2 separate regions of the Homo sapiens genome follow, and region 2 is linked to region 1. The links come from fine-mapping of genetic effects on gene expression. Tissue or cell type: whole blood. Region 1 holds a variant in brackets; the other region holds the start of a gene. All regions are shown on one strand. Distances are from middle to middle.

What was found. PIP is the estimated chance that this variant, and not a neighbour inherited with it, causes the effect.
Region 2: PUM3 starts here. The variant in region 1 is fine-mapped to the expression of PUM3 in whole blood (TOPMed, PIP 0.98).

The regions. Positions count from the first base shown.
Region 1 is chr9:2,763,479-2,768,702 of GRCh38, reverse strand. No RefSeq gene overlaps it. Among named protein-coding and RNA genes, the nearest start is that of KCNV2, 49 kb to the right of the region's middle. The variant A/G (reference allele first, on the strand shown) is at 2,950.
Region 2 is chr9:2,841,806-2,847,029 of GRCh38, reverse strand. PUM3 (pumilio RNA binding family member 3) reads left to right here and starts at 2,935. Exons shown (of 18, transcript NM_014878.5): 1 at 2,935-2,985. RefSeq lists enhancers at 2,604-2,843, 2,667-2,961, 3,345-3,906.

The sequences.
Region 1 (5,224 bases):
TTTGGAGGTGGGATCTCTGGGAAGTAATTAGGTCACGAGAGGGAAGCCCTTATGATGGGCTTAGTACCCTTCTAAGAAGAGACGGGAGAGAGCTTGCTTCTTCTATCTACCCTGTCAATATACACTACCACACCCTTCTGCAAACCAGGAAGTGGACCTTCTTCACCAGGACCGGAATTGGCCGGCCCCTTGACCTTGGACTTCCCAGCATACAGAACTCTGAGAAATAAACATTTGTTGTCTAAGCCATCTAGTCTATGGTAATTTGTTATAGCAGCCCCAGCTGAGTAGGACACCCACCTATCTGAAATTGCAACTCACACCCCTGCCCTATCATCTCAGCTCTGCTGATTCCCCTTACTGTGCTCTTGCTTGTTTTTAAACACTTATCTGTTTCTAATATACTAGGGTGTATTTATTTACTTATTAAGATTATTCATGTCTACCTCCCCCAACAAGATTTACCCAGCAAGAATCTTTTTGTTGTTCTCTAGCTCCTGAAAGAGTGTCAGGCATAAAATAGCCGTTGAATAAAATGTGTTGAATAAATGAATGCTGCCATTAACATTTTTATGTATTCCATCACACTAGTGATTTTATTTTTATGGGATAGAATGCCAAGAGTAAAACTATTGAGTCAAAGGACATGTATATTTAAATTTTAGTGGAAGTTCCAAGATTGCTTTCCAAATATTTTTTTAGCAAGTCATGGCCGGGCTCAGTGGCTTACTCATGTGATCCCAGCACTTTGGGAGGCTGAGGCAGGTAGATCATTTAAGCCCAGAAGTTCAAGACCAGCCTGAGCAACATAGGGAGACCCCATCTCTACAAAAAATACAAAAATTAGCCGGGCATGGTGGTACATGCCTGTAGTCCTAGCTACTCAAGAAGCTGAGAGGGGAGGATTGATTGAGCCTGGTAGGTGGAGGTTGCAGAGAGCTGGGAATGTGCCACTGTACCCCAGCCTGGGTGGCAGAATGAGGCTCTGCCAAAAAAAAAGAAAAAAAACAAAGTTCCTTTTTAAAAAATCATCAGTGTAAAACAGTGTCCTTTTCCCCCCACATCGCTGCCAGCAATGAATATTATAGCTCTCTTCAATTTTTTTCAGTCTGATAGATATAAAAGGATATCTTGTCCTTGACAAGGTATTACGTGTCCTTGACTTTGAGCATTTTCTCATATGTTTTGCTGGCAATTTGGAGGTGTTTATCTGTGAACTGTTTATTTGTATCCTTTTCCTATTTTTCTCTTGAGTTGTCCTTTTCTTTAAAAAGTGTAGGTTTTTTTGTTTATTTGAGATACTTATCTTTTACCTGATGAGCATTATAAATATATTTTTCCCAATATATCATTTGTTTATGATATATTATCTTTTATCATAAAAAGCTCATCTTCCCTCTTAGAGTTTTTAGATTTAAATTTTGATTGGGAAAGCCTTCCCTATCTCTGTTATACATGTAGTCATTCTGATTTTTTGTGTGTGAGTTTTTATTTCAATTTGTCATTATTTAGTCAACAAGTATTGACATTTAGGTATTTAATCTTCTAAAATTGGATGTTAGTGTGTGTATGAAGGTATACGTTACAGAGTTTAATTTTCTTCCATATTAATAGCCAATTGTGCAGGTACTAGTTATTCAAAAATCCATGATTTCCCCCATCGAACTGAACTATTAATTTTATGATATATTCTCACATAAACTAGGATCTATTTCTAGATTATCTGTTCAGTTCCACTAGTATGTTTATTGATTATCATACAAATATTTTTAATTTGATTTCAGAGCCACACCTTTTCCCCATTATTTTATATTTCCTAGTTGTCTTCCTTGACTATACTGAAGCAATTATTTTTCCACATCAAATTTATGACCGTTTTACCTAACTCTGGGAAACTTTTTGAGGTTAAACTTCCCTAATACTAGCAGCATGTATAGAGACATAGCAGCATGTATAGAGTGTAATGCAAAGATTACAGGTTAAATTCTTTTTATTTTTTTCAGAGTAATATTTTCTCGTTACAAAATAGAGATAATAATTCTTGCCCTGCTTATCTACCTAAGAGGGTTCATACCGTGTGGAGATTCTCCAATACATAATATGATAAATAATACAAACTCCATTTGTCCAGCAGAACTGTTTTGTTGTTGTTGTTTTTGTTTTGTTTTTTGAGACAGAGTCTCACTCTGTTGCCCAGGCTAGAGTACAGTGGCATGATCTTGGCTCTCTGCAGCCTCCGTCTCTCAGGTTCAAGCAGTTCTCCTGCCTCAGCCGCCCAAGTAGCTGGGATTATGGGCATGCGCCACCACGCCTGGCTAATTTTTGTATTTTTAGTAGAGACAGGTTTTCACCATATTGGCCAGGCTGGTCTCGAACTCCTGACCTTAAGTGATACGCCTGCCTCGGTCTCCTAAAATGCTGAGATTATAGGCCCGAGCCACAGTGCCCCGCCAGGACTGTTATTTTGCGTGTGTGTGAGAAAAGTAGTTAGGGCAAGGGAATAGACCTTTTCCATTATTTTATTAGGTGAGATACTTTGTTGCAAGTAATAGGAATGTAAGCATCAAATGCAATCATGTAGGAAGACACGTGTAAATTTATAATTCCTGGTATATAGTGCCTGTATGTACTGTAGTGGTATTGTGGGGGCCATAGGCTCTTGGCCTCCTAAAGGCTCGCTGAAAATCACTGACATAAAGCGGATTGATTAATAGGAGAAAAGGTATACAAATTTATTTAACATGTTGATATAGTTTGGATGTGTGTCGTTACCCAAATCTCATTGAAATGTAATCCCCAGTGTTGGAGGTGAGGCCTGGTGGGAAGTGATTGGATCATGGGGGCAGTTTTCTCATGAGTGGTTTAGTACTATCCCTCTTGGTACTGTCCTCGCAATAGAGAGTGTGTTCTCATGAGATCTGATCGTTTAAAAGTGTGTGGCACCTCCTC[A/G]CTTGCTTTCTTGCTGCTGCTCTGGCCATGTGAAGTGCCTGCTGCTCCCTTTGCCTTCCACGGTGATTCTAAGTTTCCTGAGCAGAAGTTGAGCAGATACCAACATCCTGCTTCCTGTACAGTCTGCACAACCATGAGCCAATTAAACCTCTTTTTTTTATAAATTACCATGTCTCCAGTATTTATAGCAATGCAAGAATAGAGTAAGACATGTATATACACAGGAGGCTTCAAAATGAAAAGGCCAACTTCCCAGTGAGTAACAGAAACTTATATGCCATACTGAGGCCACAGTAAAGAATGCAGACTCAGAGCATGGCCAGAAACAGGTCAGTCAGGTTTAGTGGCAAGACATGTGAAGAGAGACAGAAAGGAAGAAGCTTGGCTAGCAAAGATGGCCTTGTTACATAGATGAAACCTTCCCCAAAGAAAATAGATGGTAAATGTTTATTTTAAGACTTTAAAAGGTGTCAGACTCTCAATCTTTCCTGGAGCGGGGAAGGTATAGAAAGGGGAGGGGGCGTGGTTACAGTAATGAAGGTTCTCTATAGATGCAAATTTTCCCCACTTAAGGCAGCTTTGCAAATCCACTTCTGTCAGAAGTGATAGGCCAAGTGATAGCCCTTTTAAAATACGTCACAGAAATAGGTTTTGGGATAAAATATTTTTTTTTATTTATTTTATTTATTTATTTATTTTGAGACAGCGTCTTGCTCTGTCGCCCAGGCTGGAGTGCAGTGGCGCAGTCTCGGCTCACTGCAACCTACGCCTCCCGGGTTCAAGTGATTCTCGTGCTTCAGCCTCCCTAGTAGCTGGGATTACAGGCATGCACCGTCATGCCCAGCTAATTTTTGTATTGTTGGTAGAGATGGGGTTTTACCATATTGGCCAGGCTTGTGTTGAACCCCTGACCTCAAGTGATCTGCCCAGCTTGCCCTCCCAAAGTGCTAGGATTACAGGCATGAGCCACCACGCCTGGCCTAGGATAAAATATTTTAATTTCCTTTTATTATATACCTGTGTTGGTATATAGAGCCAAGCCTTACTGCTGTGAGCATCATATGAGGCCCTGGTCATAGCTCCTGTCTGTGGCTACTGTGGAGTTTGCCACTTCCTGTTTCCATGATCTTAGATGAACCAAACTCTACAAGGGAAAATACTTTGTAAGTTACAAAACTGCCTGACAACCACTGATCAGAATTATTCTTGCTGTTTCCTGTGCCGCATTTCTCTCAAGCAGGAGAGAAGTCTGTAGTTCTCAATGGCTGTCACCCACGGCAAGGACAGCTTCTTTCTTTGTGGAGCAGAGACGTGTGACTCTGAGTCAGTGGCAGGCAATGTTATGCTGGTAATAAGAACTCTATAATGAAGCGGTCTGAGAATATGAGTGCATTGTCCTCCTTTCTTTTGTTTCTCTTTTTTTTTTTTTTTTTTTTTTTTGAGATGGAGTCTCACTCTGTCACTCAGGCTAGAGTGCAATAGTGCCCACTGCAACCTCCACCTCCTGGGTTCAAGTGATTCACCTCCCTCAGGCTTCCAAGTAGGTGGGATAACAGGCACCTGCCACCATGCCTGGCTAATTTTTGCATTTTTATAGAGTCAGGGTTTCACCATGTTGGCGAGGCTGGCCTCAAACCCCTGACCTCAGGTGATCCACCCATCTCAGCCTCCCAAAATGCTAGAATTACAGGCATGAGTCACCACGCCCAGCCTTGCCCTCCTTTCTTGATGAAGCCCCTGCTCATATCTATCTTTAGCTATAGTGTTCACAAAAAGATTATTAGATTATCGCAATCTCAAGTGTTATTTGTGCCTTGTTTAATAGACTTGAGCAAAAGTATTTCAAGGGCCTGTGCCAGGTGTTTTCTCTCTTTTTAATCCTTTTTCAGCTGGCAAGGATCATGCACATTTATTCTGGATTTGGCTGATTTTCCCGGGAATGTATGGTGAGATGTGAGTTTGCAACACCATTATTTTTTTTAAGGAACAATAAGGGCATATACACAGAAAGCACCCATCCACATATAATTTTGAATCCCAGGGTCCTTAGAGATATGCTAGTCAGCCCAACTCCCCTCATTTGCAGATTTGGGTGCCAGAAGTGAAAACGCCTTTGCAAAATTTTGACAGTAAGAGAAATCTGACATAGTTACTCCATCTTGATTCTAACCTCCAAGTTGTCCTTGGTCATTCCTGGGCATAAGCCAAGCTAGGTTTGGCAGGAATTAGGTTTATGGTTTAACTTTAAAGCAAGGATGATAATAGCCCTTCCCCA
Region 2 (5,224 bases), 78 kb before region 1:
GCACTTTCACTAGCCCTGAACTCTTAGATAAATATGGAAACTGAGGAGTTCATCTTGCAATCAAAAAGCAGTAAATGGGACAATAAAAAGTCAACGTTGAGGATGGTGGTAGAACAGAGACTGGAAGAGCGTGGGTCTTTGATGACATTGTTGTGTCATTGAACCACAACAACCAAGTACCTTCCAAATTTTTATGTTAAGAAAATGATTGCTTAAGCCACCATTAGCTGAACTTTCCGTTATGTGAAGTCAAACGTATTTCTTTTTTTCTTTTTTTTTTTTGAGGCAGAGTCTCACTCTGTTGCCCAGGCTGGAGTACAGTGGCACAATCTCCACTCACTGCACCTCCGCCTCTCCAGTTCAAGCGATTCTCCATGCTTCAGCCTCCAGAGTAGCAGGGAGTACAGGCATGCACCACCACACCTGGCTAATTTTTGTATTTTTGTAGAGATGGGGTTTGGCCATGTTAGCCAGGCTGGCCTCGAATTCCTGGCCTCAGGTGATCCACCTGCCTTGGCCTCCCAAACTGCTGGGATTACAGGTGTGAGCCACAGCGCCCGGCCCCAAAGTATTTCAAATGGGTACACCTTGGTTCTCTCTTAAGCTACAAATCACTCAACATTTACTACTGGCTAAGAACTTTAAGATATTATCACTTTTAAGCCTCACAGCAACTCCAGAAACAAGTGTTGTTATTCCCATTTTACATATGCAGAAACTGAGGCCCATACAAGTTGGCTATCTTGTCCTTGGCCATACAGAATTTAGATTGTAAGCCAGGTTCCTTTGATTCTAATCTCAATGCTCGTCATTGCATTGCTATAGTACTGTTATTAACCTCTTGGATGTGTGCAAGTCTAGTTGCTCTGATTAAATTGTGTATCACGCAAGAAGAGCATCTTAGGCTTGTAGGAGTACACCTAGTGGTCTACATTTAGATCATTAGATATTTGAAGAATTAATGGGTTTGCTTGACAAAAAAAAAAATTACAGGATAAGCTTTTTTTGTGCTGTTCTGCAAAACCACACGATGCTTTCAATTCACTCCAAAAAAAAAAAAAAAATCCAAATCAATCCACTTTCACAGAAGACTTGATAAAAAAGTTTTTAATAATAATCAAGGGCTTTGATATGTGATAACATTTTTTTTTTCCTCCCTGGTGAAAAGGCAAATGAATAGCAGGGTTTTGGTGCAGATGCTTAAGGCAACTGCATGGACCTATCTTCAAGGATATGGGGTGCTGCTGTCTGTCGAGTTGAAAACACAAACGTATCCCTTCCCAGGGTTGTGTGATAGGGTGTATTTTGCGATTTTTCTTTCTTTTTGGCCAGCATTTACTTGTCAGGTGTTTCAAGGTGTCTAATATCCCCACTACTATGCTATTTGCCCAAAAGGCACAGCTGATGGGCCTCCTGCAATTCCTGTTCCATATTCTCTTCTCTTAGCATTTACTGAATTATTGAAAGCAGTACGGAGGCAGCCACGTTGAGTTTAGAGTCAGGCTCACTGGACCAAAGCTACTATGTTTTGCCTTTCTCTGTAAAATGAGAAAAGACCTATTTAAAACGTTCTTATGAGATTTAAATGAGCTGAAATGTAAACTAGTAACAGTTAAGGTAGACGACAAGAACTTATCAAGTATCTATGTGCTGCATAGTGAGATAAGTGCCTGGAAAGTAATGATGGCCCCTGTCATCAAGAAGCATACAGTCTACTAAATTACCAGTTTCAACTCTAACTCCTTAGTGGCCAGAAAACGGAGTAAGTTGGAAGACAGTAAAATCTGAAGTCTGGCACCAGGGATCAAGTGCCAGTTCCTCAACTTTACAGATGCAGTGGGTTGAATAGTCTCCAAAAGATATGTCTATGTCCTAACTCCCAGGACATGTGAAAGTGACCTTATTTGGGAAAAGGGCCTTTGCAGATGTGATTAAGGACCTCCAGATGAGATGATCTTGGATTATCCCCGTGGACTCTAAATTCAATGTTCAGTGTCCTAAAAACACACAGAGAAGTGGCACAGGCACAGGAGAAGGCCATTAGAAGACAGGCCGAGATTGGAGTCATGCAACAAGAGGCCACGGACCGCCTGGAACCGTTAGAAGCTGAAGAAGCAAAGCATTCTCCCCTAGAGCCTTCAAAAGGTGCAGGGCTCTGCCAACAGCTTGATTTTGGAATTCTTGCCTCTAGAACAGTTAAAGAATAAAATTCTGTTGCTTGACACGAGCAAGTTTGTGGTGTCAGTTTCTTCATCTGGAAAATGGGGCATATATCCTAACCACAATCTTATTTCCTGAAGTATAAAATGGAATAACAGCAGTTTCCAGGCACGAGCAGACACTAAAAATGGCAAACATTTATTGAGAGCGTTCCATGCTAAGCGCTTTGCACGTATCACTTAATTATTTCTATTTTATTGATCAGGAAGCCAAAGCTCATAAAAACTGTAATTTTCCCAGAGCCACACAGCTAGCAAGTGAAAAAAACGGGATTACAATTCAAATCGACTCACAAGATACCCCTTTTATCCTCCACGCTGGACTGCTGAGGAAGTATGCAAATTAACACACTTTAGAAACTTTAGCTACTTCAATATTTGTTCAGGCTACGGGATGCAGGCCTCTTATTAACCGCGCCAGCCAGGTCTGTCCTTCAGCAGCCTGTTCTGCCTCGCAAGAGCTCTCCCTCTCTTTCCAGCACGGAAGCCACAGGGTTAATGACGTCATTTCCCGTGGCCGTTGTCGCGTCCTCCGCCCGACGGATTCTTGCAAGGGCCAAAATCCTCGCGCCTCAAGAGGAGGCATAACAGCAGCGGACCAATAGAAATTCCGAATTTTTGTATTCTCTGGGAAGCTCCACCTCTTAGTCCCTGATCCGCCGCGGAAGATGAAAAAAAGCGGCCCGGGGGCGGAGCAAGGCAAGGAAGCGGAAGCGGAGAGGCGGTCGGGATCCGCTGCGCGAGCTGTCTCGGTCCCACGTGTGCGGTGAGTGTGGCAGGCTCAGCGGTCGCTCTTGGGAGGGGTTCGCACCCTGCCGGGCGCTGGAAGTCGGGAAGGTCTCTCGGGGCTGTTGTCCACTGGGCAGTCTCCTCTGGCCTCTTTCTGGGCTAGGAGTTTGGGACTGACTGGAGCCTGGCAAGAAGGGCGGGACTGGCCGGGCGCGGTGGCTCACGCCTGTAATCCCAGCACTTTGGGAGGCCGAGGCGGGCGGATCACAAGGTCAGGAGATCGAGACCATCCTGGCTAACACGGTGAAACCCCGTCTCTACTAAAACTACAAAAAATTAGCCGGGCATGGTGGCGGGCGCCTGTGGTCCCAGCTACTTGGGAGGCTGAGGCAGGAGAATGGCGTGAACCCGGGAGGCGGAGCTTGCAGTGAGCCAAGATCGTGCCACTACACTCCAGCCTGGGAGACAGAGCAAGACTCCGTCTCAAAAAAAAAAAAAAAAAAAAAAAGAAGGGCGGGACTCCGACCTCTCTCCCACCACGTTGCCCTGCGTGCCGGGTTAGAGTGGACTAGCTTCACTCCGGAATCCCAGCCCGTGCTCGGCCTGATCAGCCTGTCTGTGCTACTTCACAAACCCCAACTCCAGTGCTAGGCGGTTTGCCTGAATGTACGCAGATTCTAAGTGCTGGGAGGAAACGAACTGGATGCTGAGTTGGCAGATAGTGGAGTCTGAAGAAGTGATCTTTAAACGGAGATTTGGAAGCTCAGGGAGTACTTCAAGCAGAGGCGATAATGGGCTAAGTTCCTGAGATGGGAGCTAGGAAGGAGTATAGTTAGAGTACAAGATAAAGTTAGCCGGATAGAGTGGAACTAGGTTCTGTAGGGCCTTGAAGGTCATGATGGGGAATTTTTTTTTCTGTACAATAGGAAAACATTTCCGTTCCTATTACCATGTGTAGAAAACATTGAAGACTTGTAAGCAAGTGAGAATCATGAATAGGCCCTGGTTCTCTTTAGAAAATGTATTACATTTGGAAGCTCAAGAGATTGTATTGGTAATAGTTTGCATTAGGGTGGTGACGTAAGGGACATTTAAGAGAACTAACTTATGGTTCAGCGTGGCAGAGTAGAGAGGAAAATGTCAAGGGTAACTCAGATTTCTTACTTGAGCAGTAAAGTAGATGATGTGCCATTGGCTGAGATGGAGGACGATAGGGCAGGGAAAAATAGTATATTGTTGTTTGTGGGGCAAACAACAATAACATAAAGAACAACATAGAGAATTATGTTTTGGACATATTAAGGGTAAGGTTCCTGTTAGACACATAATTAGAGGTATCAGATAAGCAGTTATACACAAGTTTGGACCCCAAGGAGAAGTTCATAATGGAGACATGATTTGGGAGTACTCAGCATAAAAAGCCAGGAGATTGGATGAGACCACCTAGGGAGAAGTGTGGAGAGAGAAGGGAAGTTCCCTAGGGCAAAGATTTGAGGAATGCTAACATGTAGAGGTTGGTCTATAAGAAAATGTCATTTAAACTGAATTTGAAGGATGGGTAGAAATTGTGTTGGTAGAGAGAATGGCTTTAAACTTCACTATTCTGATAAGAATAGTGGCTCCTGTGTGGTGGTGATGAGTGGGGTGAATTAAGACCACATTTTGAATGGCTGTGAATGCCTGAGTTGGAACTTTTTCCTGAAGGCAGTGGGAAAGCTTTGAAGCTATTGGAGCATGGAAATGACATGAAATAGGTGTGCTACTGGAAGGTTAATCAGGCAGCGGAAAGTGGATCAAAGCAGATAGGATCTAAACAAAACTGAGCAAGAGGTAACAGGAGCCTGAATGGGGTAATAGAGGGAAAGGAAAAAGGGGGGCGAATTCCAAGAGACACTATTGAATGTGATGATTCATTACGAAGGTACAGGGTTCCCAAGCAAAGCAAATTGCATTTTGCCCAGTGCAAAAAGCAAGACTCAAAAAGTTACATATTGTATGATTCCATGTATAAGAATGCCATTCTGGAAAAGACAAAACAGGAGTGAAAACCTAATCATTGGCAGTCAGGAAAGAGGGAAGGAGTTGAATACAAAGGAGCTGTACCAGGGGACTTTTTAGAGTGACAGGACTTTTCTGTAAGATACTGTGGTAGTGGATGCATGAGTCTTAGCCATTTGTTGAAGCCCGTGGAATTATACACCAGAAAGAGTAAACTTGACTATATGCACATTTAATAAATCTGCCAGCATTTCTGGGGATGGAATGCAGGCTGTGAC